4 linked regions of the Homo sapiens genome follow. The protein of the gene in region 4 purifies or fractionates together with the protein of the main gene of each other region. This does not show direct contact. Each region holds a gene or a part of one and is shown on either strand. Other genes may lie near its edges. The genes, in order: VWA1, MIPEP, POTEE and DEFA6.

What was found.
Region 1: the proteins of DEFA6 (region 4) and VWA1 purify together in Homo sapiens (affinity purification with mass spectrometry; 2 studies listed by BioGRID and IntAct, with this or other methods). This does not show direct contact.
Region 2: the proteins of DEFA6 (region 4) and MIPEP purify together in Homo sapiens (affinity purification with mass spectrometry; 2 studies listed by BioGRID and IntAct, with this or other methods). This does not show direct contact.
Region 3: the proteins of DEFA6 (region 4) and POTEE purify together in Homo sapiens (affinity purification with mass spectrometry; 2 studies listed by BioGRID and IntAct, with this or other methods). This does not show direct contact.

What each region holds. Positions count from the first base shown.
Region 1 is NC_000001.11:1,430,878-1,439,093, forward strand, and holds the start of VWA1 (von Willebrand factor A domain-containing protein 1 isoform 1 precursor), read left to right. Parts: upstream 1-4,812; 5' UTR 4,813-4,871; coding exon 4,872-4,944; intron 4,945-6,049; coding exon 6,050-6,607; intron 6,608-8,203; coding exon 8,204-8,216. Other genes in the region: uncharacterized protein LOC107985729, read left to right, coding at 2,356-2,411, 3,086-3,194, 3,319-3,525, 3,659-4,273. UniProt on the Homo sapiens protein: Promotes matrix assembly. Involved in the organization of skeletal muscles and in the formation of neuromuscular junctions.
Region 2 is NC_000013.11:23,886,255-23,894,720, forward strand, and holds the start of MIPEP (mitochondrial intermediate peptidase), read right to left. Parts: upstream 3,147-8,466; 5' UTR 3,067-3,146; coding exon 2,878-3,066; exon of another isoform or gene 2,427-2,877; coding exon of another isoform or gene 2,424-2,426; intron 253-2,423; coding exon 79-252; intron 1-78. Other genes in the region: C1QTNF9B (complement C1q and tumor necrosis factor-related protein 9B precursor), read right to left, coding at 5,035-5,807, 7,885-7,947. UniProt on the Homo sapiens protein: Cleaves proteins, imported into the mitochondrion, to their mature size.
Region 3 is NC_000002.12:131,226,160-131,233,994, reverse strand, and holds part of POTEE (POTE ankyrin domain family member E), read right to left. Parts: intron 7,173-7,835; coding exon 7,066-7,172; intron 5,752-7,065; coding exon 5,614-5,751; intron 3,160-5,613; coding exon 3,089-3,159; intron 1-3,088.
Region 4 is NC_000008.11:6,923,977-6,931,095, forward strand, and holds DEFA6 (defensin-6 preproprotein), read right to left. Parts: upstream 2,101-7,119; 5' UTR 2,060-2,100; coding exon 1,867-2,059; intron 952-1,866; coding exon 842-951; 3' UTR 721-841; downstream 1-720. UniProt on the Homo sapiens protein: Host-defense peptide that contributes to intestinal innate immunity and mediates homeostasis at mucosal surfaces by forming higher-order oligomers that capture bacteria and prevent microbial invasion of the epithelium.

The sequences.
Region 1 (8,216 bases), on a different chromosome or scaffold from region 4:
TGGGGGGGCCTGTGGGCGGTTCACAGAGGGATGTAGGAACGTGCCTGTGGGAGGCCGTAGCCCCGGAGAGCAGAGGCCTGGCCGGCGGAAGAGAAGCAAGGAAGGGGCGATTCAGGAAGGCCAGAGCCCGAGTGCCGGGGCAGGGGCCCCACCCCCTCACCCCCTCACCCCCTCACCCCCTAGGACAGAAGAGGCCCTCCGTTGGAAGGCAGGGGCCCCACCCCCAGGACAGAAGAGGCCCCACGTTGGAAGGCAGGGGCCCCACCCCCTAGGACAGAACGGGCCCTGCGTTGAGGCCCCTGGGTTCTTCCCCCGGGTTCTTGCCTGGCCCCTTCCATGGATCCTAAGCAGCTCCCTTATCGGCCACCATCTGGGAAGCCAGGAGGGGGGCATGAAATGAGGGGGAGGTGGGGCCCCCAGCCAGGGTTCCCCTCCTCAAGGCCCCAGGTATACAGTTGGCCTTTGCCCAGCCCTTCTAGCCCCTGCAGGGGCAGGACCCCACCTGGACCCCATGAATCTCTCCCAACTTTTGCCCAGCATGGTGTCCCTGACCGAAACCCCTCCACTTCAGGACCCTGGGTCCCCAGGCCCGCCCCCACCCTGAGGGTGCCTCTACACCCCTTCCCCCAGAGCCCCTTCCCCCAGCCTGAGGGCCAGGAGCAGCCTCCCTCTTCCTGCAGTCTCTACCACAGCTCTCCACTGGCCCAGGGGCCTGAACTCCTTGGGTGCAGCCGAGCTGCAGGGTGGCTGTGGGGACCTCTGCTTGGCGTTCTTTCCCGGTGGCTGAGGCCCCTGCCCTGCCCAAATGGGAGCCCGGAGTGTGTGTGTGTGGCTGTGTGTGTCCCATCTGCGTCCCTGTCACACGTCATGCCGGAGCAGGGGAGGCAGTAAGGGGCCCCACCCCACTGGATGCAGTGGGCTTCCCACCTTGCCCGGTGTCATTTCCTGATTTGCAAAATATTTCCTGGGAGCAGAGTTGTTGGCAAGCACAGCCTCAGACGGTGTGAGCAGCTGGGGGACCCCTCAGATGTGGCTCCCTCTGTCCCTCCGGCCTGTGCTGGCCTGCCCCTGCCCCCAGGCCTGTAAGCTGGGCAGGCTGTGGGGCAGGAACTCCCCAGGGTGAGTGGGCTGGTCTGAGGGCTAAGGCCCCTGCTCCCAGCTCCGCCCCACCCGCCTCTGGGAGTCCCTTGTGGTGTGTGGACATAGGTCAGTCCCTCCCTGCTGCCTCCTCCCTATCCCAGTCCAGGCCCCTGGGAGTTTTGCGTCTGCCCAGGGCTGTGGCCTGGGCCTGTCTGGACTGTGTCTGGGGAAGGGGCAGCATGTGGTCCTCCTCTCCCTTTCAGGGAAGGATGTCCCAGCAGAGAGGCAAAGTGAGGGGACCCACACAAGGAAGGGGCCCTGCTATTAGGAAACCCTGGGTCATTCAGGCCTGCTGCTCTCCGGCTCCCACCGGGCCGGGCTCTGTCCTCGCTGTGACGAACCTCCTGCCCCTGTCGAGGCCGGCAACACCCTCCACCCGGCCACCCCTCCCGAAGGCCCCCAGCCTGCTCTGCCCCTGCAGTCCTGGCGCAGGCCCCTCCTGCCCACCCCACCCTGCTCTCAGCACTCGCGGTTCCTTCTCTCTGCCTGGAAGGCTCTTCCTCGGGTACCCCTTGCGTGCGAGTCCCCAGTGACCCCCTGTTCTCACAGGGAAAACAAGTAGACCGTATCTTTCCTAGCTGTTCACCGCCCACCCTCCTAGCCTGGCAGTGCTGGCCCGGCGCCTGTGTGTCCCCAGCACTGAGGCTGGGGCGCGGCTGTGCCCAGCACACAGACGAGGGATGGATGGACAGACGCAGATGGTGCAGCTCCCACCCCTACCCAGGCTGCTACCCGCCAGGTGTCTACCCGCCACCCCAGCTGCTGCTGGCACGGGGGACTGAGGGGGGTCAGCTCTGGGGCCAGAGGGGCAGGCCTGGGCTCCTGGGAAGTGAAAAGTGACCCCCGAGGCCCCCAAGACCTGTCCTTGACCCCAGTGAGCAGGTTGAGTCTAGGAGCTGCGTGGGCCCTGCTCTCTTGGTGACCCCTGCTCTGCCCCACTTACTGTTGTGGGGTGGGCTCAGGCACACCCCAGAGCAGTGCCTCAGGCCCGCACCGCTGCCCCTCACCGCCGCTGCCCCTCACCGCCGCTGCCCCTCACCACTGCTGCCCCTCACCGCCCCGTCCATCTGCTCCTGTGTGTGCTTGAGTACGTTTGTGAGATACGTGAAAACAGCAACAAAAGGCGCCGGGTGCGGGCCTGGGCGTCCTGCCCTCAGCTCGGGTCAGGGGTGGGGTCAGAGGCCTCAGGAGTTGCCCTTTTACCCAGGGTCAAACATGACCACAGCCAGCTGGGGACAAAAGGCCCTTCATCTTCTGCAGAAGCCTGGATTGTGCGGAGGAGGGAGCATTCCCAAAGGCGGGTGGGGGCAGGGGCGGTGCCCGGGTGACAGCAGCCTCCCCAGCTTCCTGGAACTCTCTCCACCTGCCTGCAGACAGACCGGCAGGGCAGGCTGGCTCCGGGAAGTGAGGCACAGGGACTCCCACAGCCCAGGCCCAGACCGTGGGGGCGGGGTGGCCGCAGCCAAACCAGGCTGCTCCCCACCCCATGGGGCCCCAGGCCACCAGGATCAGACAGGGGCTGTGCCTGCAGGAGGCAGAGGGCTCGGGGCCAGCACCCACTGTGATCTGGCCTGACCCGTCCTTGCCTCTGCCTCTTACCCCGGGCCCTTCTCCCTGGAGAGTGGAGGGTTCCGGCTGTTATATTTGTGCTTCCTCCGGTGTCTGCCTCAAGTCCGGCCCGGGCCCTGACACTGCACCTCTGGCTGACCCCATGCTCTCTGGGACCCTCTGTCCACGTCCCTCCTCCGGGGTGGAGACAGCGGGGGGAGGGCAGGACACAAGAATGAGTCCTGAAGACTGAGGGGCACGGGGAGAGCTGATGGGGAGGGTCTCCTAGCTGGAGGGACTCCAGGCAGAGCCGGGAGCAAGGCAGGTGGCTGAGCTCGGCCCAGGCTGGGTGGAGGCCAGGCCTCCTGTGCCTTCTCCCGCTGATGGCGAGCTGAAGGGAGGAGGGCGGCCGCTTCCTTGAGGGCCTGAGTCACAGCCAAGAAGACCCGCTCACTTTTTCCAGAAGTGAGGGAAACTTCCCCGTCAGCCCTGCAAGGCTGGCTGAGGTGTGACTGTGGCCCGCCTGCTGGGCGAGGGTGGGGGACAAGCGGGCCACTGGCTGTGAGCCTCCCCAGGGTGGGGGACCCTCGGCCCAGCTCCCTGCCTGACTACCTGGACGTGCCTCCGCAGGGTCTGCAGCCAGCTTCCGGTCAGACCCCAGGTCCTCCAGCGGCTGCGGCCTTCAGCGTCATCTCCACGGCAGCCCCTGTGTACTGGGGGCTGGGGGGCCTGGCGAGGCCCCTCGAAGTGGTACAGCTTGCACTCTGGGGACCCAAAGTCCCCCCACCGGGCCCAGGCGGAAGCACCAGGCATTTCTGGTCCCAGCCGAGGTCTGAGGTCTGTGGAGCGCAGCCAGCACCTCCACTGCCAAGATCCCCGGCAGGGGGGGTGGGGGGCGCCGGCGGGGACACAGCTCTCCCTTGTTCCTGCCGCCAGCTCCTCAGCCTCAGCCTGCTGCTTCCTTTTTTAGGCAAAGTCGAGTGCTGGCCGTCCGCACGGCCCCGCGGTGTCTCACCTGCCTGAAAGGGAGGAAGGAAGCCTGTGGAGCCCCATCCGTTCTCCCGCGGCGCATCCTCCAGGAGAGGGTGGGGAAGGAGGAGACATCCTGGCAGACACCCCCCCACGTCCCCCACCTCCCAGCTCTGAGCTGAGGAGGCCCTGGAAGAGGGCCATGGCTACTCCGAGGGAGGGCCGGGGTAGGGTTCTCCTGTCCAGGGGACACTGCTGGCCCAGCCCCACCCAAGCAGGGGAAATCTGCCCTGGGAGCCACTGTCCCTCAGGACGCCCCCTGCAACCAGCCACCTCTCGTCTGGGCCTCACCAAGACCCCAAGACTCAAGAGCTCCTGTCTCACCAGTGGGACCCTCCAGTCCTGCTGGGGGTGTGTCCTGGGTCCTGGAGTCTGGGCCCCTCACTGGGTAGGGTATATGGGTAACAGGCCCAGTGTGGTCCCACTGGACAGGGCCTCAACCAACCATCTCCCACTCCCATGCCTCTTCCTCCAAGAAGCCCAGGTGGCGTGGGTGCTTCGAGTCTCTCTCGAATTCCTGTCTTCTGTCCCCTTTCAAGCCACTGTGTCCTTGTAAGTTCCACCCCATGGTCCTTCCCATCCCTGCTGGTCAGTCCCTGGGATACATGTCCTGTTACTCCAGACACCTATCCGCCTCCAGCGCGGAGGCCAAGGCGAAACCACGGTCTGGACGTGTTTTTTTGGTGCCACCGCCAGCCCCTGGGGTTCTCTTGGGCCTGGCTGCTGGGACCCCAGCACCCAGAGTCACGGCAGTGGTGGGCATGGGGAGGGCCTAGCCTGGTACCTCCCTGCTCGGCTCCCGCGGCTGGGGGTCGGAGAGGGGTGGAGAGCGTGGGCCGCACAGCCTCGGCCGGGAGAGGGAGACTGGAGTGTGTGTGTGTGCGTGCCTGCGCGTGCGTGCCTCGGTCGTATCTCGGCTGGTGCTGCGTGTCCCTGCGTGTCGGGGTCCGCTCGTGCGCGCCTCTCCGGGGTCTGTGCGCGTGGCCCTCCGCTCGCGCCGGAGGGCGTGGGCGTGGCCTCGGCGTGGGTGTGGCCGCTCGGGGAGGGGCCTCCCGGGGGCGGGGCCGGCCTGGTCCGCGCGGTGACGCGCCCTGCAGCCCCGAGCGAGCGAGCGAGCGAGCGAGTTGCCGAGCGCGCCCCGTCCCTCGCGCGCGATGCTCCCCTGGACGGCGCTCGGCCTGGCCCTGAGCTTGCGGCTGGCGCTGGCGCGGAGCGGCGCGGAGCGCGGTGAGTGCGGCGGGCGGCCGGGCCGGGGCTGGGGCTTCTGGTGACCGCTCTGCGCCGCTGCCCGCGCAAGGCCGTCGCTGTCCCCTGCTCCGGACGGGCGGGCGGGCTGGGAGGCTGCGGGAGCCGGGCGGGGGCGCGGGCGGAGCGTCCTGCTCACCTGAGGCTGGCGGCCCAGGTGCTCCAGGCGACACCGTCCGTGAGCGCCGGGGCATAGGGGCCGTCCCGGCCCGCATCTCTGCGGGATCGCGGGCCTGGACAGGAAGAGGGAGATGTCTGTCAAGGGGGCACCCCTGCCTCAGTTTCCCTACCCTTGCGAGGGCCCTTAGTGGAGGGATGGTAGGGAAGTTGGAGTCGCCCCACCGCACTGGGGAAAACCGCAAGGCCGGGACTAGAATTGAGGCACGCTGGTGCCCTGGCTTGGTGGGGAGGGGCGGTGTAGGGGGCATCAGCCTCCACCCCGGAGGTGCCCGGAGGAAGGGGGAAGCCTGCGAGGGGCTGTTCCGGCTTTCAGGCTGCTGGGGGTTATATCTTGTTGTGTGAGTCCAGGTGGGCTGGAGGATGGAGGCCAGGGGAGGGGCCACCATCTAGTAAGCGGGGTCTGGGCTCCAGCCAGGCCATCCGGCGTGGTCATTGCTGTGCCTCCGACACCTTCCCCTGCTGCTGTGTGCATGCCCAGGGTGCCTCACCTGCAGGCTGAGCTGCGTGGCTGAACTCCAGCCTCAGGCTGCTCCTCTGAAAGCCATGCCTGGAGGGAACAGCCCCACGGCTCAGGCCTGTCCTGGGGGCCTAGGCCAGGACTCTTGGCTCCACCTGCTTGCAGGGTCTGTGAGGAATGGGAAGGTGTGGGGGCTTGGAGCGGAGAGTCGCCCTCTCACAGATGGGATAACACAAGCCCAGAGAGAGCCCTAGATCCCATGGCCAGTGTGCAGTGAAACCCCCAAAAGTACAGGCCTCTTGCTTAGAGTTCCTCTTTCCCCCAACCTAGGACCTTTGGGAGAAGGCAAGCATCCACTTAAGGAAAGCTGGGGCCCTGGGGGACCCTGCCTTGCTGTGGGGCTGTCTGGGGGGCCCACACCTGAGGCTGAGCATTCCTCCTTTCCCCCAGGTCCACCAGCATCAGCCCCCCGAGGGGACCTGATGTTCCTGCTGGACAGCTCAGCCAGCGTCTCTCACTACGAGTTCTCCCGGGTTCGGGAGTTTGTGGGGCAGCTGGTGGCTCCACTGCCCCTGGGCACCGGGGCCCTGCGTGCCAGTCTGGTGCACGTGGGCAGTCGGCCATACACCGAGTTCCCCTTCGGCCAGCACAGCTCGGGTGAGGCTGCCCAGGATGCGGTGCGTGCTTCTGCCCAGCGCATGGGTGACACCCACACTGGCCTGGCGCTGGTCTATGCCAAGGAACAGCTGTTTGCTGAAGCATCAGGTGCCCGGCCAGGGGTGCCCAAAGTGCTGGTGTGGGTGACAGATGGCGGCTCCAGCGACCCTGTGGGCCCCCCCATGCAGGAGCTCAAGGACCTGGGCGTCACCGTGTTCATTGTCAGCACCGGCCGAGGCAACTTCCTGGAGCTGTCAGCCGCTGCCTCAGCCCCTGCCGAGAAGCACCTGCACTTTGTGGACGTGGATGACCTGCACATCATTGTCCAAGAGCTGAGGGGCTCCATTCTCGGTATGCGGGAGGAGGCAGGGCCCAGGGAGCCCTAGCTGGGAGCCGCAGAAGGAGAGGCTGGGTTGAGACTTTGGGAAGATCTCATGTCCCCAGAGCAGCGGCCAGGGCCTCCGGGGCTGTGGTACCCCTAGGGTGCAGGGCTGAGTGATGCAGCTTGTCTATGCACACTCTTCACTGGGCGACCCGTGTACCCTGCTGAGACGGGGGCAGGCTTGAGTAGCCACCTCCAGGTGTAGCTCCCTGCTGATGTGTCCAGCCCAGACCTCGAGGCCCCAGGGAGTGCAGAGCCCGGGTGTAGGCCCAGGAAGAAGCTTCCAAGTCTGGGGACTCTGCAGATGGGCAGCATGTGCTCCTGAGCATGCCCACCATACCTGGAGAGGGGTGAGCCAGAAAGGTCAGGGACTGCCCCCCCAGAGAGCACAGGGCACCTCTCCTGGGTGGGGACAGCCGCCGAGGGCTTTGAACTAGTTCGGACTGCAGGCCCACTGTGAGGGTTTCCTGAGAGGCCGGACCAGGGAAGGCCTGAGGCAGGAGCTGAGCAGCTCCCATTGGCTTTTTTTCTGGACCTCCCTGCCCCAGCCAAGCCCTGAAGGAGCTGGGGCTGGAGATGAGGAACCGGCCACTGGCTCAGCCTGCTGCAGCCACTGAAAAATGCCAACCCTGGGGATCTCACCAAGTCTCCGTCTGTGGGTTAATCATCCACCCAGAGCCGGAAGGGGTTGGACTGTGGGTTGGAGAGGGGTGGACGGCCCTCCCCAAGGTTTCCCCAGGGACGTCTGGCCCCTAGTGGCCCCAGGTCACCCAGTGCAGCTGCGCCTGGAGGGGACCAGGAGGAAAGGCTGCCTTAAGCAGCCAAAGGAAAAGCCTGAGGCTGCAGTGCCGAGGGGCCAGGCAGCAGGGTGGGGGCTCCTGGGAAAGAGGCCGGGTCTGAGGGTGGGGGATGGGAAGAAAGTGGCCCAGGCACCCAGCACTGCAGGAGGAAGATCCTGATAGCTTTAACCCAGCGCAGACATTTATGAGCCTCGCCACAGCAGGGTCACTCAGAGGGCTATGTGGGGCTTGGTGTCACAGGTCCAGGAGTCCCCCTCTGGAGAACCCCACCCCACACTCTCCTGGGGACCCAGGGCAGGCAGCGCCTCCAGAACCCCAGGGCCTGCCCCTGTGGTCTCCCATCTCCTAGCTGCAGCTCAGAGAGCCGGGCTGACCTCAGACCCCGGCCTGGCCACTCAGGCTGGGGCTGGTCCTCTGCTCTCAGGCACCACCGTGGACTCTGCCGTCTTTGAGGACCTTTGTCCTGGTCACTGATCTGGCCACTGCACCTCTCCACAAAGGACTGGGTTTGGGGCTAAGGGAGGCAGGGGCGCTTCTGACAGGGCCTGAGGGGGCTGCACCCTTTCCTCCGTCCTCCCCCAGCCAAGGCACGTTCTGAGAATCCCCAGCATCTGCGGGGCATGGCTCCAGCAGCTCCTTGGCCGCGGGGCCCCGTCTTTCCTAGTGGGGCCTCCAATCTCCAGATCTTCCCCATCAGCCAGGGCCGCCCTCCAGCAGCGGAGGAGGAACTGACCGCTGTTCCCTGACCCCCTGCACCACCCACAGACGCGATGCGGCC
Region 2 (8,466 bases), on a different chromosome or scaffold from region 4:
ACAACAAAGGATAAATTTCACTTAAATTTTAACAAGTTGAAAGAGAGGTAGCTTCAAGTCTGAGGTAAAGCACCTTACCAAGTCGGCCACTCTGCATAAGGAATCCGAGAGCTCATCGAAGATCAGCACGGTCTGGGGCCCAGGTGGGGTGGAACATGCACGGTCCACAAGCAATTCTGTCTTTCTCAAGGCTTTTTCTTGTGCAATATGAAATCCTTCTGGGGCACTCAGCTCAGGAACTCCAAAAAGACCCTTAGAACCAAAGAATACGTCTGATTTATAACCAAAATTCAAAATTGTGCTTTTTTTATATTTACTAAAATTACTTTTATCACAAAGGAGATCTTGACTTTCATTGGTGTATCATGTTATACCTGTGATCACAGATACCACTATCATACTCCCCATATCACTCCACATAAATTACACTAAAAATGTTTTCAGAACATAATTTTTCTTCAATTTTTAATTATTTTCCGGAAAAAACAACAACAACAATGGTATGGGTTCAAAATCCAGCTGTCACTTCTACAGAACCTAAGAGTGGCCGCAAAGATTAAATGAGATCATATATGTAAATATATATATATATATACATAAAGCAGTGTTTGGCACAGAGCATTTATAGATGTTAGCCATAATTATTATTAGCTTATAACCCTGGTCATGTTATTTCTCCTCCTAGGAGAAATATTTTTTTCATCATGTACAATGGGAATGACGATACATACCTTACAGCATGGATACAGGTAATAAGTATATGTAAAGTACTAACAGCAGCAGCTGACAAGGTGAGATCTCAGTACATAGTACCAATTATTCTATAACTATCAAATAGGGAGGATGAGTTGACTATGAAGCAATAGATATTTTAGAAAAATGTAATGAACATATTAAAATCATAGGCTGAAACTGGGAGCAAATTTTATACGTTACAAAGACATTTCAATATCTTGATAAAAACAAAAATCACTGATCTAATGGTAATGACCATTCTCTTGTTACCTATTCAATCACACTTGTTAGCACACTCAGGAAGGCAGGGGGAAAAAGCATTTAATATGCACCTACTGCATACCATGAAGTGTGCCTGCTACTTTACATAGGTTCTCATTTAAATCACACAATCCTACAGAACAGAGTATCATTCTTTTACAGATCAGGCCACATGCTTTAAGACGTTAGAAAAAACTTGTTTGAGGTCACAAATTAATATTGGGAAAGACAGAACTCGAACCCGCTCTGTACATCTGTAAAGCCCACACTTTTCCATACTTCTCTATTACAATTTATCTGTTTGAAAGTCTTCTCTCCTGAAAAGGTGAGCTTCCAGACCCAAGAGCCCTGCCCTTCATTTCTTTAACCAGCTATCCAATAGAATGTCTAACACATGGGGGAACTCAATGAAAGAAACAAGTGACCGGAGCAGATGCTAGGCTTTGTTAATTCACTTTGTAGGTGCTTAACGCATAGATTTTCAGAAATACGAACAGGTAAACCTTCAGGCCTGACAAGCCCTACTGTTTCTACAAGAAGGGATGGATGAAGTTAAGCTAGTAATCTCTCTTCAAAATATATTACAAGATAAAAAATAAAATAAAAGAAAGTCAGTGGGAGACAAAGGAAAATCAGGACCAAAAACAAATGTCATCTTTATACTGATTTAATTTGATTCAAGCACAGACTACTTCCACTTCCCAGTACAACCTGCCCATATTGCTCTCGGGAATTCTAACTATCGGATTACCAGTGACCATAATGCTAAAAAACTGAATAAGGCTTTTTTTTTTTCAAGGCAAAAATCAATTCTAAAATTTGAAAATCTGCTATCAGTGCCGAATATCATGATACAAAAAGGGAAAAATAAAAGCTAAAATTAGTTATATCTCATCCACCCAAAATCAGGCTTCCCCTCACGTCTTTCTGCTCAGCGCCTACAAGTAGGTCTCTTCACACCAACTATGTTAATACCAACACTACATACCCTTAAGGAAGGTGGTGTAGCAAATTTCACACAAAATAATTTTTAAATAGACAAAACTGATAATGGAGATAAAACAAGAATCACACACTTTAGCTCAGTGCAACAATACCCTAGACTTGTCTTTATAAGGCAATACAGTATAACGAAATTTTAAAAGGCAAAAATAAAAGTAATCCTTAACCTAAAACGGACAAAATGTACAAACTCCAAGTAGAACAGGCATCAGGTAAGTCCTTTCCAACCTTGCCTTCCTCTCACCTTTCACTAGACAACGCAGGCTAGTGACTTCCTGGGGTAAGAAATCAAAGTGACCAATTCCATGGCACTATGGGAAGTGAGACTCGTCTCAACAGAGTTTTGTGTTTTAAAACAAGAAAGCCCAAAGCTTTGAAATAAATTAATTAATAGATGATGGAATTTCAGGTATTAATGAAATTACCATTACTCGACTGCAGGCAGCCGTGTCCTTGCAAAAAGACCATGTGATGCCGCCTGTGAACGCACAGGGATAGGCCTCTTAAGGCAGGACTGTAGCGCTGGAGCTAAAGGGCTTTAGCAGGGGTGCGCCTGAGTGTATGCAGAGGGCGGGTCCTGGCAGGACGAATTCACCGCCACTGCCAGAACGAACTATTCAGATTCACGTGGAGCAAGGGGCTCATGCAGAAGCAGTTCCCGGACCCGACACTCTGGGTAGGAGACCACTAAACCCGGCCCCTCAAAGCAGAGGTGACCTTGCCCTCATCGAGAGCGCACACAAGACGCCACTGTAAAAGGTGGGTTCGCTGCTCGCCTCCTCCCAGGCCCAAACAATCTCGCCCTGATTGTTGCTGGCCGCGCGGAGCAGGGGTCGGCTTAGCTCGGGGACTGAGGGGAGCTCCTCCTGCGCCGCTCACCCGGCGCTCGCCGAACAGGTCCAAGCGGCTGCCCTGGGGCTTGACATTGAAGGCGGCGCCCACGGGAGACCAGCTGGTGCTGACCCTTCGGGCCCGGATCCCGGCTTCGAGGCTTCCCCGGCCCGCCCGGCGGGGCGGCAGAGCTGCTGCTCTGGCTCCCAAGCCGCCCAGCCTTCCGACGCACAGCATTCTAGCACCAGAGCAGTCCCTTCCTCCAACGCAGATCCCTGCCCTGCTGCTTTCGCTGGGAGCGCGCGCTCCGCGTTTCCAAGGCAGCAGCCCACGCCGCCCCACGTGACGGCCCCGCTTCCGGGTCTGGGCGCGGCCTCAGGACGTGGGCACGTTGTCGTCCAGAGAGCAAGAGCGTCGCTCCCCCTCGCCTTCTCGGCCGCCCTCCCGGTTTACCGCCCCCTGTGTCCAGAGTAAGAAAAGGCTAGGGTTGCGCTTCCCTCCCAAGTTGACTAGGGGTGGGCGCGAGTAAAATCATGACATATTCGAATTCCAGTGGACATTAGATATTCTTTGAGAGACGGCAGGTACTTGAGTAAACAAGAAATGCCCACCATAGGCCTGAAGGAGAAGTTTCCCTTTTAACCTACTCTCTTGGTAAATTTATCCTGCACTTCTCTGTTTGGTGTCTCTGTCCGGTAACTTTTTACTCTTGCATAGCTCAGTTAAAAATTTTAGATGGGAAATAGTGAAAGAAGTCTAATGGGATTTTCCCTCCAGGGTTTCAGAATTGCCTGGGACCCGTGAACCCTTTTTTCCTTCCCCTTTCTCTCTTTTGGAATGGATTGTCTACCCTATGCCTGTCTCCCCCTCCAACCCCCGGTCTTTTAGAAGTGGATTAACTCGTCTCGCTTCACAGGATCACAGATGGAGAGACATTTTGCCACACGATGAATCACACAGTAAGTCTCCTCTGTAGCTTATTTAAATGATGTAGATGGTGAGAGGAGTTGATGCGGAAAGTGTTAAGACTTTTGGTAATGTTGACATGGTGCGAAAATGTATTTTGCACATGAGAAGGAAATCAATTTTGGGAACCAGAGGGCAGATTGGGTTGAACTGTGTCTCCCAAAATAGATGCTGAAGTCCTAACCCTCGGTGCCTGTACATGTGACCTTATTTGAAAATATGGAGTTTGCAATTATGATTAAGATGGGTCATACTAGATTAGGGAAGCTGTTCTTGTAAGAAGAGGAAAATTTGGCTGATACAGGAGGAGGACAGCCACCTGAAGATGGAGGCGGGGACTGGAGTGATGCTGCCACCAGCTGCCAGAAGCTGGAAGCAGCAAGGCTGCATCCTCCTGTATCCCCTTTGGAGGGAGGATGGCCCTGCTGCTACGGTGATCTCAAACTTCCAGCCTACAGAACTGTGAGAAAGTCCGTTTCTGTTGTTTAAAGACTCCCAGTTTGTGTACTTTATTAGGGCGATCCTAGAAAACAAGTAGAGATTCATGTCTGGCAAATAATGATCAAACAATGATTTGTTGGATAGAATGGTGATTAAAACCTAGGTTAGAAAATGAGCAAAATGGGAGGGAAAGCACCAGGACAAATAGCTAATGCATGCAGGGCTTAATACCTGCATAGGTGATGGGTTGACAGATGCAGCAAACCACCACAGCACATTTTTATGTAACAAACCTGCACGTTCTGCATATGTATTCCAGAACTTAAAAATACATTTTTTAAAAAAAGACAAAATGAGCAGTGTCTACAGCTTTCTGGAGTGTGACAGCATCACCAGCTTAAAGCTGTTACTAGTACTAAATGGAATAAACATTTCCCTCTAATTTCCCCTTAATGTCCTCAGAAACACAGATGAGGGATACATCTTCATATGACTCCTCAGAGCACTAAAATGATATCAAAACACTCTTCCCACAAGAAATGCACAGACAAAGGATTCTTCAGATAATAGGAATAAGAAATGTGAAATAAATTAGAATAAACCATGCAGCTATTTTAAATATTTACTCCTGGAAAAATAGTAAGTTACATAGAATCAGTTTTGGGAATAACTTTTCCGTTTTCACCTTTTTATGATTATTGTAATAATTGGAGGAATTAATAAAGTAAAACCATCTGAATAAGTTCATCCCAAGCTGATTCTGATGGATGGTCTGGCAGATTTATAAACTCTCCTCTGTCACTGGCTGCTGAACAGAAGGAACCCTGTGAAAGTTGTGTCATCGTCCTCATCAGCAAACAAGCCATTGAACCTCTCTCCTCCTGTCACCTGCAGCCACATCTCATCCCCGAGCTTCAGCTGCAGGACAATGCTGCCAGAGGCCTGGTCCTCAGAGCTCACGTAAGCATCTCTGGTGTGCAGTATTTTTACTCCGTTTTTGACCAAAGACACCTGAACATTCCTGGAGAAAACAGTGATGTGGTAGGTGAAGTAATAGACCCCAGCAATGTGGCACGTGAATTTCCCCACTGCTGTATCATAATGGTTGAATTCATTATACAGGATCTTATCAAATTTAATGGGCACATCTGAAGAAGGAAACTTGCTCAGCACCGTGAGCCCCACAGTGAAAGCACTTTTTGGCAAGACTAGAGTCTCACCGATTTTCCCTTTCTCTCCTCGATCTCCTTTCCAGCCTCTTATTCCCCGGACTCCTGGCTCACCCTGGGGCCCCGTGGGTCCAGCTTCTCCCTTGGGACCAGGCTTTCCAATAGGGCCCATGGGGCCCGGTAAACCAGTTGGGCCCAAAGGCCCAATGTTGCCCCTTGGCCCCTCAGGACCAGTGGGACCCACGTCACCCTTATTCCCCTTCTGCCCCTGAGGCCCAGTCTCTCCTCGGAGGCCTTTCTCTCCCATGGGCCCTGCAAGCCCCTTGGGGCCATGTTTTCCTGGGGATCCTCTTGAGCCTTGATCACCTTTGATGCCTTTTGCTTCAACTTTTCCATCTGCTCCTAAATAGAGAAAGAGCAAATAAAGAGATAGTTTGTGAAAGATTCCCTTGTGAACAACTTTGGTTTTTCTATAATTGAGCTCACAAATGAAACAAAGTAGTACACAGGTTCAGTATATGCCCAGAGTTTAAAATTCAATTACTCCATCTGGGTGCGGTGGCTCACACCTGTAATCCTAGCACCTTGGGAGACCGCGGCAGGAGGACTGCCTGAGGCCAAGAGTTCAAGACCATCCCGGCCAACATAGCAATTCCCTGACTCTAAAAAAATAAAAATAATAAAAAAATAAGAAAATAAAATTCAATTACTCCAGCCCAGCTCAGTGGCTTATGCCTGTAATCCTAGCACTTTGGGAGGCCAAGAGAGGCAGACTACTTGAGTCCAGGAATTCAAGATCAGGCTAGGCAACATGGCAAAACCTCATCTCTGCAAAAAGTACAAAAATTAACCAGGTGCGGTGGCACACAATTGTAGTCCCAGATATTCAGGAGGCTGAGGTGGGAGGATGGCTTGAGCCCAGGAGGCTGAGGCTGCAGTGATCCGTGATCAAACCACTGCACTCCAGCCTGGGCAACAGAGTGAGACCCTGTCTCAAAAAAATAAATAAAAGTCAATTACTCCAATTACACACGTGTGTGCACATGGACACACACACACACATCCCAACACACCTTTTGACTACTGTCTACTAAATTAGTGTCAGGGCTCACATTAGAAATTACAACCCTACCATCTAAGTCTACCATGCTGGCTATTAAATAATGTCAATCCATGACAAAAAGCACTCTGCAGAGCAGAGACAGACAGATTAACTGACACTCAACCCTAGTCGTGACATCCTCTAAAAACCTCCTCCCTGGAGTGAACATAAAATAAAGCCTGCATCGAGGCATTGCCCTCTCCTGCCCAACCCCAGCCCCAACCCACCTATCCCACCGGCAATTCATCATCTACAGAAACCTTGCTGCTTCCTTGCACCCCCACCCATACCAAAGAGCCGTCGTTGCAAGTGTGGACTCTGAGGCTAAGTGCCAGGTTTCCATTCTGTCCCCATATGCACACAGGACGTCAGACGAGCTAGTGAGCCTCGTGCCTCTGTTCCCTCACCTACGGAACTGGGGTGATAAAACTACCTAGTGTCTGGGGATGTTGCATTTGGTGAGTCAGTACATGAAAAGCACAAAGTGAAGATTACACAAGTTTGCCACTACGACTACATCCCAACCCATCAGGGACCAGTTCTAGTGCCACCTCCTCCATGCAGTGCTGCCAGATGCACCAAGTCAAAAACTCAGTCTCACTCCTCAGTGCTCATCCACTGCAAGGTTCAAAGTTCAGCAAACTACAGCCACAGGCCAAATTCAGCCTCCCTCCCGCAAGCAAAACAAACATGGTTGACATTTTTTTTGTTTTTCTGGTTTTTGTTTGTGACAGGGTCACTCACTCTGTTACCCAGGCTGGAGTGCAGTGATGAGATCATGGCTCATGGCAGCCTCAAACTCCCAGGCTCAAGTGATCCTCCCATCTCAGCCTCCTGAGTAGCTGGGACTACAGGCATGTGCCACCATGCCTGGCTAGTTTTTTTATTTGTATAGACAAAGTCTTACTATGTTGCCCAGGGTGGTCTGGAACTCCTAGGTTCAAGCGATTCTCTTACCTGGGCCTCCCAAAGTGTTGGGATTACAGGTGTGAGGCATGGTGCTCGGCCATGGTTTGCATGTTTAAATGGTCACAAATAATATTCCACAATACATGGAAACCATGGGAAATTCCCATTTCAGTCTTCACACATATGGTGTCACTGGAACAGAGCCATGCTTATTTATGGAGCATCTACAGCTTCTTTTCACTACAAGGGGAAGTTGAGTAGTGGTGACAGATCTGTGTGGAGTTGAGAATATTTACTACCCAGCCCTCTGCAAAGCCTGCCAATCCCTGCAGAATCCCCCCATCTGGAGAGTAAGAACTGTGTTGCCTTTATTATAAGATTATAATCAGCATGGAGGACTTGTCCATGGTAATATTGTTAAATAGTCGACAGCTCAGAATTAGAGCACCATAAATAGGAACTACTAACCTCGTTCTCCCTTCTCTCCACTCGTCCCATCCTTCCCCGGGCTGCCAGGACATCCTGGTTCTCCTAGGTGGAAAAGCAGAAAACAGGCATGAGTTGAAATTCCATTTCTGATTTTTCTGGCCATTGGTCTCCATCAGCCATGTGTTGGAGAGTCTGGGGGTGACCCCCGCCCTGACGGGCACTCTGTCCTCCACACGAGCGCAGGTGGAGAGAGGCAGGCATGAGCGGGCATCTGGGGTGCTGAGCTGCGTGGGATAAGTGACCTAAGAAATGAACTGAGTGACTTCCCAAGCGCCCATCTCTAGGACGTGCCTAGAGCGCACAGCAAGACAGGACGAAGAGGGAGTGTGTGCAATGGGGACTGACTGTCACAATTGATTGTGTTCCTCTCCTGCGACAAGGACTTGGGACGTGGTCTGAATGTTGGAGGTGCGAGGAGGTTTCCTCACTCTGTTTCTCTTCCATTACTCTTGAGGAGAGTGGAATGGAAGATTTACTAGGCTCCTATGAAAACACAGATGACTATGGTTACGTGACACTATCCCAAGATAGAAGAGAGAGTTCTGGAGGGATCCCTCTAGT
Region 3 (7,835 bases), on a different chromosome or scaffold from region 4:
ACTCAAAATATCCTACATGAATTTTCCATTAAACGTGCATAGAAAAACATTAGTCATTCCTGCTGACCTGCTGCTCTTTGCTCTTCTGTATTCACCAGAAAATTTCCTCCTTCGTCCTCACATCCAGGTTAAATACTACTGTACAACCTGGAAACCTGGAAATTATCTGACATTTCTCTCTGTCCCCCAAGCCTTTCTCATTCAATTATCACTAAATCATATTGACGATACCGCTCTTCTGCCTCTGCTTTATATTCCCACTGCCACTGGGAACACAAACATTTACAAAATGGCTTTTATTTAAAAAAAAGCCTGCCAACTATTAATGTTATTTCTTACATGAAAAAAATTAAGCAAAACAAATGAAAAAAGCATAACACCAAAAAAAAAAGGCCAACATATTAAAACAAGTAGTTGAGATTCCTAACTTTATGTATTTCACTAAGGACGGGTGAAAACCTTGTAATACATTGATGCTACTCCAAGGATGTATGACAAGGAAACTATAACTGACTACTGCGAAAACTTCCTTTGTCTCCTGGTTTCTTTACAGGGTAAAGAACCTTCCATCAATCCCAGCAAACTATAGGCCACAGGCCAAATCCAATCTGCATTATGGTTTTGTAAATAAAGTTTTATAGGAGCTCAGTCATGCCTGTTTGCTTACATATAATCATGGTGGCTTTCACACTACAACAGCAGACAACAGCAGGGTTAAGTAGATATGACAGAGACCACATAGTCTAAAATATTGCCCAACTGGCCATTTACAGAAAAAGCTTGCTAACCCGTTTTACACCATAACCAGAATGCCTTAATACTCAGATTTAATCTTATGACTCCCCTGCTCAAATTTCTCCAATGAGCCCCTGCAGCACACATTGTTGGCTCCCTATCAATAGCCATTCCTTATTCTTTCTTGAAGAAGAAATCCAAGTCTATTGGGATATTTATTATCCCAATCCCCCTCCTCAGCCTCAGAAACAGAAATGATTATTCTAAGCTAATCAGGTATTTACCTTCCCAGTGCCTGGTTTGGGAATGAGCATGTGGTGTGACCCAGCCAGTGAAATGTTACAGGAAGCCCTTTGCATGCTTCTAAGTTTTCTCCCTGTTTAAAAGACACATGTGAAGAAAAGCAGCCCTTGCGATGTTGTGTTGTGAGAACAAGATGTTTGGAGCTGCTGCGGATTAGCCAACCATGAAGGGAGACGTGAATAAAACACTGTCAACAGCACAGCTGAAAGAGGGAAAAGTGGGATCCTAGGATATCAATGAACAACCAAAACAACTCTGGTTCCTACTGTTTTAGCCACTGTTCATCTAGTATTTGCAGTCCAAAGCATTCTACCCGGTAAATTTCCCATGGCACACAGGATAAGACCTACTCATTTCTATAGTATTAAAAAGTCTATCATAAACTTGCCTTAGCTAAGTATTCACCTCATTCCCAACCTCTCGTATCACACACTTTTGGTACTAGCAAAAGTGAACTGCTCAGAAACCCTGCCATGTTCACTCAAGCATCTTGTCTTTTGCACTTGCTGCTCTTCCTCCCAAACAGGCAATCTCATTAGATGTTCCTTCTGGCAAACACACGACCTCGCTGCATGTTCCTTCTGCCAAACATTCTTCTTCTGCTTCTTTACCTAGAAAAATTCTTCTCTCTCTGCATGCTTACCTTAAATCATACCTACTTTTTCCCAAAACTTTCATTCCTCATCACATATGTCTGGCACATAATCAATATATAATAAATCATAATTATAAGCTTCCAGTGGGCATCTAGCACACAGTAAGCACTGAATAAAGTAGTAAAATAATGAAAATGACAATGATAACAAAAAGCTCCTGTCTGTATTTTTAATTGTTTGTGGTCTATAGCATTAGAAAAATGGTTACTATCTAAAAGACATTTGATAGTTATATGTTAAGTGGACAAGTGAAAACATAAATAGAAATGTTTTCTTTGTAAATTCTGTTGAAAAACCACAGAAATGAAATGGAGACAGCTCTATTATGAGCACCTTAAAGATCAAAACTACATCTATTCCATCTTTGTCTCCTGCAACTTATAAAACCTAACTTACAAAAGCTCTTTGATAAATAGATGGCTAAATTAAAGGTGTCCTCATACAGTTTGGACTATAAATGTATTAGGTGTCCACAACCAGGTAGCATACTAGCGTTTTTGTTAGTGTGAAACGTTTTTCTGCTTTTATTATAATCTGCTGAGCCTAGAGTTGGGCAATTTGTATATTTATTATGACAATCTTTTGGCAAATGGTAGCAGAGCATCTTGTTCTAACAAAATTACTGTTATGATGACAATTAACCAGCAGGTAGAAGAACACATCTTGTTCCAACAAAGTAAATATATCTCTTTCCAACTTCAAATGAGGAGGAATGAAGTCAGTAATAGTGAGACCTTATTGGGACAAGCATATGTAACATGACTTGTGCTTCAGTGTTCTTTTGTGATCAAAAATTCCTTACTTTTACTTTTTTATCTATGGTAGGACCACGCAAAGCAGGGGTCCTCAACTCCCAGGCCACAGACTCATACCAGTCCATGGACTATTATGAACCACACCACACAGGAGGAGGTGAGCAGCAGGCAAGCCAGGGAAGCTTCATCTGTATTTACAGCCACTCCTTATGGCTCATATTACCGCCTGTACTCTGCCTCCAGTCAGATCAGTGATAGCACTAGATACTCATTGGAGCATGAACCCTGTTGTGAACTGCCCATCTGAGGGATCTAGGTTGTGTGCTTCGTATGAGAATCTAATGCCTGATGATCTGTCACTGTCTCACTTTGCCCCCAGATGAGACCATCCAGTTGCAGAAAAATAAGTTCAGAGCTTCCACGGATTCTACATTATGGTAAGTTGTATAATTATTTCATTATATATTACAATGTGATAATAATATAAAGTAGCACAATAAATGTAACATGATTGAATAATCCTGAAACCATCCCCACCCTCCCCCAGCCCATGGAAAAATTGTCTTCCACAAAACCGGTCCCTGGTGTCAAAAAGGTTGGGGACAACTGACTAAAGTAATTCACTATCACAAGTCTTACCTGGATTGCTGTTTTCAGAAGAGATTTTTAGCATCTGTTTTTCTTTGTAGTCAGAAAGTAACTGGCAAATTCTATGTATAAAAATGTAATAAACCAAATTACTATTTTAATACTGATATAAAAAAAACTTACCAAATGTAGAATTATTAAGAGTATTTCAAACAATATCAGAATAACAGAACTTAATAGTATTATCCCATCCACTTATGAATACATTCTACAAACTTCTCTTTAAGCTTCTAATTAAAGAAGAAAAAAATGTAAGGTGAAATAGTCATAAATCGAGGGCACTGTGACCCAGTAAATTAGCTAGCATTAGCATGACATAATAGAAAGTGTCCCAACTCTAAATAAGTCCTAGCTCCATAATGAACAGCTATTTGTTCTTGGACAACTTGCTTCTCTTAGGCTCAATGTCTTCTTCAACAAAGTGAGGACTTTGCTGCCTTATTTCACTAGGTTGTTATAAAGGTTTAACGAGATAACATTTTTTAAATGCTCAGAGAAATAGTAAAGCAATGGAATAATCTGTTCCTAAACTTTATGACTAAAATTATCTTGGAATCCCAAATAAAACCCAATGCATATTTTGTTCATAGGTTCTAATATACAAATGTTGTAGTTTTCAGAAAATGTTATTAAGTCCTAATTTTGCTTCTTAGTTGTCCTACTCTTTATGGCTTATAATTCAGGGCATCTCAACTATGTCATAGTTTGTAACTAAATTTATTCATAAATATCTCATTAAAGTAGATAATGTGATTGTCCACTATTACGGAGTTGATCAATCACACCAAGGGCAGAAAAACCAATGGATGTTAAGACCTGACTTGGACCAACGATCCTTCTCTACAGACTCAAACTCTCAGCCAGTAGATGTCTGTTAGGATAATGCTTTATATTGATGTTCAATTCCAGCTGACATGGGAGACCAAAAGTCTACTTTTATTTTTTTTTAGTTTCCACAGAGAAGTAGCAAGCTGACATTCTGTAATTTTCGACATACATACTAACAATATATTTTGCACCGAACATGTTATTCAGGTCTAAGTCATCTCATAGACCATCTTACATGACTATTTTTGCAGCACAAATCACAATTTCAATATTTGGGTGGCACCCATTTTGCTTTGATTCACACTATTTCCTCAGAGCTAGTCAGCAAATAGTCAAATGACCTTCCAGTGACTGCACAAAATATGGAATGCTTCAAAGATCTGTGCTGCCTCCTTATGCAGAAGCCATGCTAACTTTCCCCGTATTGTTCCAATTTTAGGATATGTGCCGCCGAAGCAAGCACAAAGCCCTACTTTTACACATGATTAGTGATGCGTCATGGACAAGGCTTGGCTCTGTGAAGTCCAACTAACCTACTTGAGATTCTGAGAATTCTCTTCAATGGCTTCCTGTGAGCTAGAGTTTGAAAATATCTTAAAATCTTGAGCTAGAGATGGAAGTAGCTCCGACAATTTTCATTATCATGTAAATCAGATCACTCAAGGGGCCAACCACAGCTGGGAGCCACTGCTCAGGGCAAGGTTCATATGGGACTTTCTACTGGGTTCTATACAGGATATAAAGGTGCCTCACAGTACAGATCTGGTAGCAAAGAGGAAACAAACACTGACCTCTTTCTGCCACATTATTTGAACCCCTCTCACCCTTTAGAACAAGCCCACCTAACATCTGCCAGAGAAAAGACCAACAACAGCCTCAAAGGATCTCTTACCATGAAGGTCTCAGCTAATTCCTGGCTAAGATGTGGGTTCCACATTAGGTTCTGAATATGTGGGGAAGGGTCAATTTGGTCACTTTGTGTGCGGATAAAGTCAAGATGCCCAGCGGCCAGAGCAGGGGGCTGGTGCTCTGGGAACAATGGCTGAGCATATAAGCATAGGTATGGGAATTAAAAAACATCAAAGTCACTGTATGAATCGCCATGAAGACTTGAGGGATCTGAATCTACTGATTCATCTTAAGGCAGCAGGACCAGTTTGAGTGGCCACAAAGCAGCAACAAAATCAACGGAAACAACAGAATGATTGCAATGTCTTTTTTCCTCCTCCTTCTGACTTGATAAAAGGGACTGTCTTCCTTGGATTTAGTGAACTCCTTCGGTTCTTGAAAAATTCAAGGAGTATGTAGGACATAGTCCCCAGAAGACAGTACAAGACTTTCCGCTAAACTAGACATTTCAAGACCCAAATAACTAATCAGAAAAATTAAAGATGTGACACTATTTTTTATCCCTGCATAGGTGTTACACTTGGATCAAATGAACAATGCTGGGATCTCTAAGGATAAAGATCTTAAAAGTCCTGAGATAAAGAATCCCGCACCCATTGGTACTTCTAACTTGTCTTGCTTTTTGTCTGATTTCTGGCTGATGCAGGGGACTAACTCACTGCCACGCGAAAACTACCTGAACCAAACTATGACATCTCACCTGATATGTGAGATGCAACTGTTATAATTATTTTAAACCTCAATTCAGCATTAACTAGCCTTTTAATGTAAACACTTACACATGATGATGACTAGAAACAGCATACTCTCTGGCCGTCTGTCCAGATAGATCTTGAGAAGATACATCAATATTTTGCTCAAGTAGAAGGCTGACTATACTTGCTGATCCACAACATACAGCAAGTATGAGAGCAGTCCTAAAATGACAGAGATAGGAACTGTAATAAAGTTATTTTTAAAGCTAATTTGATATACTTTACCAATGTAACATCTTGCCTGTCTGTGCAGAATCAAACATTTACATGCACTAAAAGACATAAGCATCTTGAGTGCTCAAGTGTTCATCTTTGTAAAATGCCACCAAGGTTAAAAGGAAGGGACCAAAAAAAACCCTCTTATCTCAGTGGGGTATTGCATAGCAGAAGCTACTAATTTAAAGTCCTTTGATGGGCAAGAAACAATGTTAGGGCCACTTATCTGAGGTGGACAAAGATTTAAGTGAAGATTTTGTCACAGCTTCCCTAGACTGACATGCTGTAATAGAAAATCAGCTAGGGGGTAAGAGAAATAAGAGCTCTCTGCATGCTCAAAGCAGTAATAATAATGGTAAGAATAGTAGTCATAGGAGTTTCAGTTAATGGTGCCAATAACCATGTGCTAGGCACTGAATTAAATGCCACATGTATCTTTCTTACTTATGCACAGCCAACTTTGAAGGATATATTCTCCTACTTTTCATATATGACAACATATTTGGTGGTAAATAACGTCCCCAAGGTCACACACCTAGCAAGTAAGAAAGTTACTAATTAAACCCAGTCTTGTGTGAATCCAAAGCCTAGCTCTTTTCTCTTTATCACCCACGTACGGCTTGTCTTCATTAAAGGAAAAGTGTATCCACTTAAAACTATCTTCACTCCCTCTCTCCATACCAATTAAAAATAAAAACATCAAAACACACTGGAAAAACAAAAGGAAAAAAGCTGTTGAACCCACAGTATGTGGGAACAGCAATTAATTGTCATGTAGGGATAAGCTAACACTAATATTCTTCAAAGAAAGCAACTTAAAGCAAAGTCATTAAAAAGACAAAAGGATTTTCAACCCCTATTTATGTTTAATACAGCAGATTTAATGGAAAAGCATGTAAGACACAGGTTAAAAACTATTAGAAAGGGTTAAGAAGTTCAATACTGAGTCATAAAGTAAACTAAAAGTTAAAGTTCAAACTTCATAAAATTAATATGAAATCCTTTAAGCTAACATAAGATCATGTAACCAAAAATGTCACATAACAAATAACATCAGTCAATATAATAAGAGAAGATGAATCCTACTAAAACTGTTCTTTATGTTGCCCAGCCCAAGTAATTGTTTTTCTACCTAACTGATTTGTGTTGATACTGATCACTACATCCCAGTAAGTATACATTAATCTTATTAATTTAATATTTATGACTTGAGTGACTGCTGTCCATCTAGAACACACAGATTAAAAGAAAGAACTATACCTTCCATATCTATCCAGTGCATTTAAATTCGCTTTTTTCTTGATTAAAAATTTCACGACTTGCTGTTTTTGCTCATGTACACCAAGTAACAGTGGTGTGAGGCCATGCTGTAAAACAATATAAAGCAAAAACCTATGTAATTCAAAAAAGTACATATTCCTCAACCAAAGTGGAAACTTTATGTAAGATCTTATGGACTTACACGCATAGAAAGTAAATAAAATGTACTCGCTTCCTTCTCACTCTTCTGTGCTTTCCCACACGCTGCTCCTTCCCTTGGAAACACCCCTTCTCTGCCTCACCACAGTAACTCTAATCATCTCAAAAACTCACTTTAAACATTTACTGCTTCCAAGGCTCTTTGCTTCTAAACCAGCATTTGGCATGGTGTTATTGGATGATAATATTTTTCCCATCTAAACAAAAAGCTTCTTGAGGGCAGGGGCTGTATCTTTTGTCTCTATATCCTCAACCCTAAGACAAATTGTGTATAAAGCAAGAATCTGCATGTAAAATATTTCTTTAGTTTCATGTTTTACCAAAAGTTCAACCTCCAACATGCAACAAAAATTGCTATTAAAACTCATACTGCCCATTTGAAAAAATTTTCCAACATTTATTTATTTAAAATCTATTTGTATTTAATTTTCCCAGATTGTTAACTAAACCATCAGTTCATAGGACTACTGAAACTAAATTAACAGAATTCCTATCTGTATTCTTAATAACTCCATGGTTTTTAGTGTTTAAAACTGCCATGCTGATTATGC
Region 4 (7,119 bases):
AGTCGGAAGGGCCAGGACCCCACGTTCCTTCCTCCTATGTTTGTATCCCATTCAAACCAAGATTAAAATTCTAAGCCCTCCAGCCAACTGAATGGACGCCTCCTCTCAGCCCAAGGCATTCTAGTGTTAACCTCAAACACTGGTTCAGGCCATGATGGGACGTGGGGATCAGGAATACCTCATGATATCCTCCTCCCATTGGAATTCAGGCACAGCTGGCCAGCATTAACATTAAAACAGAGTGCCTAAGGCCACGTGCGGTGGCTCATGCCTGTAATCCCAGCACTTTGGGAGGCCGAGGTGGGCGGATCACTTGAGGTCAGGAGTTCGAGACCAGCCTGGTCAACATAGTGAAACCCTGTCTCTACTAAAAATACAAAAATTACTTGGCGTGGTGGTGGATACCTGTAATCCCAGCTACTTGGGAGGCTGAGGCAGGAGAATCACTTGAACCCAGGAGGTAGAGGTTTCAGTGAGCCAAGATTGTGCCACTGCACTGCAGCCTGGGCAACAGAGCGAGACTCCATCTCAGAAAGCAAAAAACAAAAAAACAAAAAACCCAAATCCTCTCTTCTCTCAACATCCTCTCTACCACTTCTCTGGTCTACATAGAAAACTCTTTCGAAGAGCTAGTGTTCTGAGATACGACTTGGGTTTTTGTTTTTGCATCTGAAGAATCCTGAATTATCAAACACCAGAAAAGCACAAACACAAAAGAACTTGCTGAAAGGACTTTATTTGAGATGAGGAAACAAAGTTGATGGCAATGTATAGGACACACGACAGTTTCCTTCTAGGTCATAAAGTAAATTATGAATATATTTCTCTCTGTTCTCATCCCTCAGAGGCAGCAGAATCTGTGGTTAATACCCATGACAGTGCAGGTCCCATAGGAATATTCTGTTGAATAACAGGACCTTCTGCAATGGCAAGTGAAAGCCCTTGTTGAGCCTGGGGACAGAGAGAGAGAGCATCAGAAATTGAGCACCAGGGTCAGCAGCGGGCAGTAAAGAGAATCTTCAGGAAGTTGCATGCTTGCTGACATGTAATGCTGGCTGCATTACAGCCAATAGCATGATCACACCATCAATAGGAATAAATACGCAGAGCAGTGTTGGTCACACACAGGATTAGAGAGCCATTCTGATATGCTGTACTTATCTGCTCCTTCCCTGTCACACACACATCTGAATGCACCCATATGACTGTCTCCAGTTTGCAACGGTTCCTATAAAAGTCAGATTAAAAAACATTCCTTTAGCAGCTGGATGTGGTGGCTTACGCCTGTAATCCCAGCACTTTGGGAGGCCAAGGTGGGTTTATCACAAGGTCAGGAGTTCAAGACTAGCCTGGCCAAGATGGTGAAACCCCGTCTCTACTGAAAAAAAAAAAAATACAAAATTTAGCCAGGCTTGGTGTCTGGTGCCTGTAATCCTAGTGACTTGGGAGGCTGAGGGAGAGAATTGCGTGAACCCAGGAGGCAGAGGTTGCAGTGATCTGAGATAGTGCCACTGCACTCCAGCCTGGGTGACAGAGCGAGACTCCATCAAACAAAACAAAACAAAACAAAGCAAAACAAAACATTCCTTTAAAATTAGGCTCTCTTCCTTGAAGTAGAGACTCCTCAATACATTTCTACATGGCAAAAAATTAGAAAATTTCATAGACTTATCATAGAATTAAAAAATCTTTAGAGAAAAGTCATGCCTTGAATATCACTGATTCTTCCTTTTCAGTACAAACATAAAGTAATTGAGGCCTGGGGAGGTGATCACCTAAGAGAAAGAGCCAGCTGTTGGATCTAATTCTAGAAGTGCTTGGTTTTCCTCTCTACACTCCTAGCTCTGCAATGCTGGTGTCTCTTACCCAAAGCTCTAAGACTTGAGCTTGCATCCTCTGCAAAGGAGACGGCAAAGTCCTGGTCATTTGCCCCACGCTGCTCCTGGGCATCAGCCTCATAAGCTTTTGCCTGCAGTGGATCATCCTCAGCTTGGAGTGGCTCAGCCTTGGCCTGGAGGGCCACGAGGAGAACAGCAGTGAGGATGGTGAGGGTTCTCATGGCTAGGGTCGCTGGAGGAGAGAGAGCAGGAGCAGATGTGTGGGGAGTGAGGAGCCAGCCTGGATTTATAGGTCTGCTGGGAGAAGGCTCAGGGACAGATGTTGCGGTGAGACGGGGAGTGCATGTGATTGGGGAGCAGAAGAGCTACCCTTGCCCTCCATGTCCCTTTGATGCTCCTTTGTTCTCCAAGCTTCATTGTAGTGTGAGGCTGTTTATTGAGTGTCTGTTCTGGTCCCAGCTGATAGTGATGATAAGAACAGTGTTACATTGTCCTGTTTTCCATCTGCTGGAATATTTACTTGTTAATATTCAAAAAAGAAAAGAACAGTGCTTTCAATGAATAATTTCAGGAATCAAATGCCTCTTATTTTCTGAAGGTGGGGCTGGCCACTCTCTGGAGGTCTAGACCTTGAGGCCAGAGCTGGATCCCGCTAGAGTAGAGAGTTAATTCATTGCAGGATTCAGGGGGCATTTCTGCCCTCATGAAGGAGGCTTTGAGATTATGGGGTGAATAGGCTCTTGTGGGGCACAGTGTGGAGAAGATAATGACCTTATCAGCCTATAAGGGAAAAGAACTCAGTGGGATACTAGGTAAAGAGTTAGTAAAACTAAAGCCAAAAGATTTATTTCAAGAAACCCATGTGATCTGAATGTATCAACTAAAATATGTACTAGGTATTTCTCTCCACTTTGAGAAACATCGAAACAATTGACATGCCCACAATCCCCCTCTGAAATTTTATTTTATTTTTAATTTTAGAAAATGTTGAATTGCCCACAAGGACCATTCAAAGGGTAAAAGGAGTAATGAGCCTCCATCCTTGCCCCAGCCCTGCAGCTCTGCTCCAGGAAATCTCCACTTAAAAATTAAACATTGGTTTGTGCTTTGTTTTTTCTCCCTAATGCTGTAATTTGAATACTTTGTAGCTCAAAACATATAGAACTCTACCATTATTTTCATAGTCTCTTGTTTCTGGTCTTCTATTCAGGTATTTTATCCATTTTGAGTTAAGTTTTGTATATGCCAAAAGAGAAGGGTCCAGTTTTATTGTTTTGCATATGGAAATAGTATTCCCACCACCATTTATTGAAGAGACTCTCCTGTCCCTATTGTGTCTTCTTCATGCCATTGTCAAAAGTTACTTGACCATATGTGTTTCGATGTGTTTCTGGACTCTCAATTTTATTTCACTGGTATGTGTCTGGTTTTATGCCAATACCATATTGTTTTGATTACCGTAGCTTTGTAATATAATTTAAAACCAGGAATTGTGATGTCTTCAACTTTGTTTTTTTTTCTCAGAATTGTTTTGTCTATTTGGGTTCTTTCACCATTTCATACAAATTTTAGGATTTTTTTTTTTATTTCTGTAAAGAATGCCATGGGGATTTTGATAGGAATTGTGCTGAATCGGTATATTGTTTTGTTTGGGATAGACATTTTAACAATCTTAATTCTTCCAATTTTCAGCCCAGGATATCTTTCCATTTATTTTTACATTCTTTAATTTCTTTCACTATTTTTTTTTTTTTCATTTTCAGTGTGTAGATCCTTCACCTCCTTGTTTCTTCCTAGGTGTTTTATTTTTTGATGCTATTGTACATGGAATTGTTTTCTTGATTTTTGTTTCAGTTTTGTTAGGGAATCTATGGGCATTTAAAAATGCATTTGTTCTGTATTTATTTGAATTTTGCCTTCATTTACCCAGCAGGAGATGACCATTTAACTAACATCTAAATTTCGAATTAAACTTTCCCTCTCCAACCCAAACTGTAATTGTCCATTGTGACTTATAGCTGTCTATGCCTCTTTCCCCAGTAGTTCATGGGACAGGCAATAATTACTCTATCACCTGGAAATCCTACCCTGGAGCTGTTACTCAGATACCCTGATCTAGCTAACAGGACAAGATACTTCTGTAAATAAGTGATCTAATTTGTCTTGACTTAAAGGAGCATTTTGGAATTGTATGCTCTATCTTTGGAAACTAAGAAGTGTTCCCAGCCTATTTTAATTGAAATAGAAGATAATGCAGACCAATCCCCATGGGCATTGGTAAATGTTTAGACAGATGGGGTGCAGGAAGGCTTATCAGGATCCATATCGCAGCTTGTAAAGTCACCACAATCACCACGCCAACAGACGGAACGCCTGGAAGTAAACAGAACTTCTAGAACAGTAGAACATCAAAGGGTGTCAGGGACAAGGGAACTTCACGTAGTTCCTTTCCCTCTCTCTACTTACCTTCCTGCCCCTAGAGTCACATACATGCAAATACTGAAGCACAAGCTCTATTTTGAAGAGCCCATTTACTCTAGGATCCAGCTTTCAATGATCATGCACAAAATCGAGGCAGGTATATCTCCCCCTTGTTTAGCCATCAGGCTCCTGCAAGAGAAGTAACCTCCCTACCGTGACCCGCAGTCACGAGGACCTCATCTCTGTTAACTGCCTTTCTTGAGTTAACCCCACCCCACTCCCACATGGAAGCCCTAATAAGAACCGAGCATCTTGGAGATGCCACCGAGATGAAGTTGACTTAGGCCAAGGGCTGTCTCTGTTGTCCTCAGTGGCTCCAGCATACCTCCACCCTGAGATGTCCTCACACATCAGACGCTGACCTAGCAGAGCCCACACTATCTTCCAGTAAAGAAGAACCTGCCCTTACAGAGAACTGGGCGCGCAGCACTGCAGTAGCACCTTAAGGACAGCAGGTGGCCCTCCTGCCCTTAAACAGGAGTTGACCCAAGAGGGACTTCAAATGGGAGCGCTGTAAAGTGCTGTTCAGCAAACACATTGCTTTCTTCTGCACCCCAAAGTGTACATATTACAACATTAGTTCAGGGGGCACAGAATACACTGCTGCTGGTTCCGTGTCAGCGGTAGCTGCTGGCCCTGGAAGGCTGGCCTGCCCCGTCTCTAACCTAGTGTCATGATGTCGTTCCCCCTTGTGCTGGCTGCGGGGCTGAGGACCTGAGTCTGGGGGCCTCTGCTCTTTCTCCTGGGTGGCAATGCTCCTGTCCCTGCCTCCTTCCCAGTCTGTGGTGGGGACTCGACAGCCAGGGCAGGTCAGGTTCTCAGTCTGTGCTGAGGTCTCACCTGGGCCTTGCCTCTGTCTCCCCCAGGTGGCTCCCAAACCCCAATTAGAACAGAGTGAGTCTGTATCTCGTGGTCCCTTTCACCTTTCTTTCTGGGCTGCACCAGAACCTTGGCAGAAATCAGTGGTTTAAGCAAAAAATGGTGCTACATGTAAAAGTCTTTGCAACACTTTCACTTCCACCCCCACCCACCCTGCCCCCAGCACAGTGTCCTGGACTTGCCACCAGTGTCAACTCTGAGTGTAGACACAACTGAAACTGTTCCTTCATACACATGCAGTTCAGCTTTCAGACACTCAACAAGAGCCTTGACACCCTCAAGCTGGGGTAAATATCCTGGGGAAGCTACAGGTGGGGGTGCAGGTGTGGGTGTGAGAGGAGAAAGGCCTTCAGCAGCAGCAAGGATATTCCCACACTCTCTGAGGCTGTCTGGTGACCCCAGCAGACACAGTGAGTGTGGACCTTGGGCAGGGCCCTGGGACATGGTTTTGACCCAGTGTGGAAGGGCAGTTTTGGAACAGAGTGTGTGTGTTAGCGTGGGGTAGAGCGGGGGCTGCGTGGGGGTGAGCTCTGAGAACTGTCCATCTCCCAGCCCCTGAGAGTGCACCGCCCTGTCCCTCCCCTCAGCCTTTTGTCCACCTCCCTGCAGGGAGGGTCCTGGTGCTGCCTGTGCCACACAGCAACTCCCGGGCCTGCAGATCCAGCTGGGACAGGCAGGAGCTCCAAGTCCCCTGCCCTTTGTCTGCCTTTCCCAGCCGCCTCTCACATGCTGTCTATGTGTCTGGTGTTGTTGCCTGCAGCAATTTTTACAAATGACTATGAAAGAATAACTCTCTTGGGCTGTTTTAAAATGTGGTCCCAATTCTTGGACTCTTCTCCCACAGAAAGGGAGGTTTACTTCTTTCCTGTTGGATCTAGGTCGGGTGACATCTTCACCAATAGAATGCACCTGACTTAGTACCATGCCGTTTGCTGGGCCCAGGTGCTAAGACACTGGTATTTTTCACTTTCACCGTCTTGGATGGCGCTGCAGTTGGAATATTTTTGTCCCTCTGAAATTCATATATTGAAATATTAAACCACCAGGTGATAGCATTAACAGGTGGTGCCTCTGGGGAGGTGAGTAGGTCCGGAGGGCACCTCATGAATAGGATTAGTGTCCTTATAGAAGAGATCCCAAGGAGCTCCTTCATTCCTTCCATCAGGTGAGGACACAGTGAGGAGGTGCCATCTATGAACGAAAAAGCTGGTTCTCAGCAGACACCAAATCTGCTGCCACCTTGATTTGGACTTCTCAACCTCTAGAACACTGAAAAATATATCTGTTGTTCATAAGCAACTCAGTTTATGGTATTTTTTTTTAAATAGTGGCTCAAACGGACTAAGAGGGCTGGTCACTTGGGGGCCCAGACACCGTGTTTTGAGGAAGCCTCAGCCTCGCACAGGAAGATGAACTGAGGGCACCTGCGAGGGTGAGCTAGAGAACACAGAACAGCCAGCTTTCTGGGAAAAACCAAAACTCTGATTTACAGTGTTTGTAAATTTCTGTGGTTAGAATCCTCCCAGCTCTGGACCGTTTAAAAAATGTCACACAAACCACCTTTCTCATGAGCCGGCATGATCTGGCCCCAGCGCATCACAAGGTCCCATCCCTCAGCCCTGTGAGAGCTCCCAGCTGAGCCAGCACTGCCTGCCACCTGTGCGCGAGTGTCTCAGCCCTGAGCTCCTCAGATCCCAGCAGAACCTCTCCTCTGAGCCAGGCCCAAATTGCCAAGGTATGAGTGAAGACCTGATGGTGCTGTTTCAGTCCACTATGTTTGGGATATCTTTCCACACAGCAGTAGATGAACAGAGGGCATTGTCACAGTCTTGGCGAGAAGTTGGACTTGTGCATTTCTGCGTGTGTAAACTTCTGCTTCTCCAAAATATTGGCGAAGTAGGACTGAATCCTCTTACCTTAT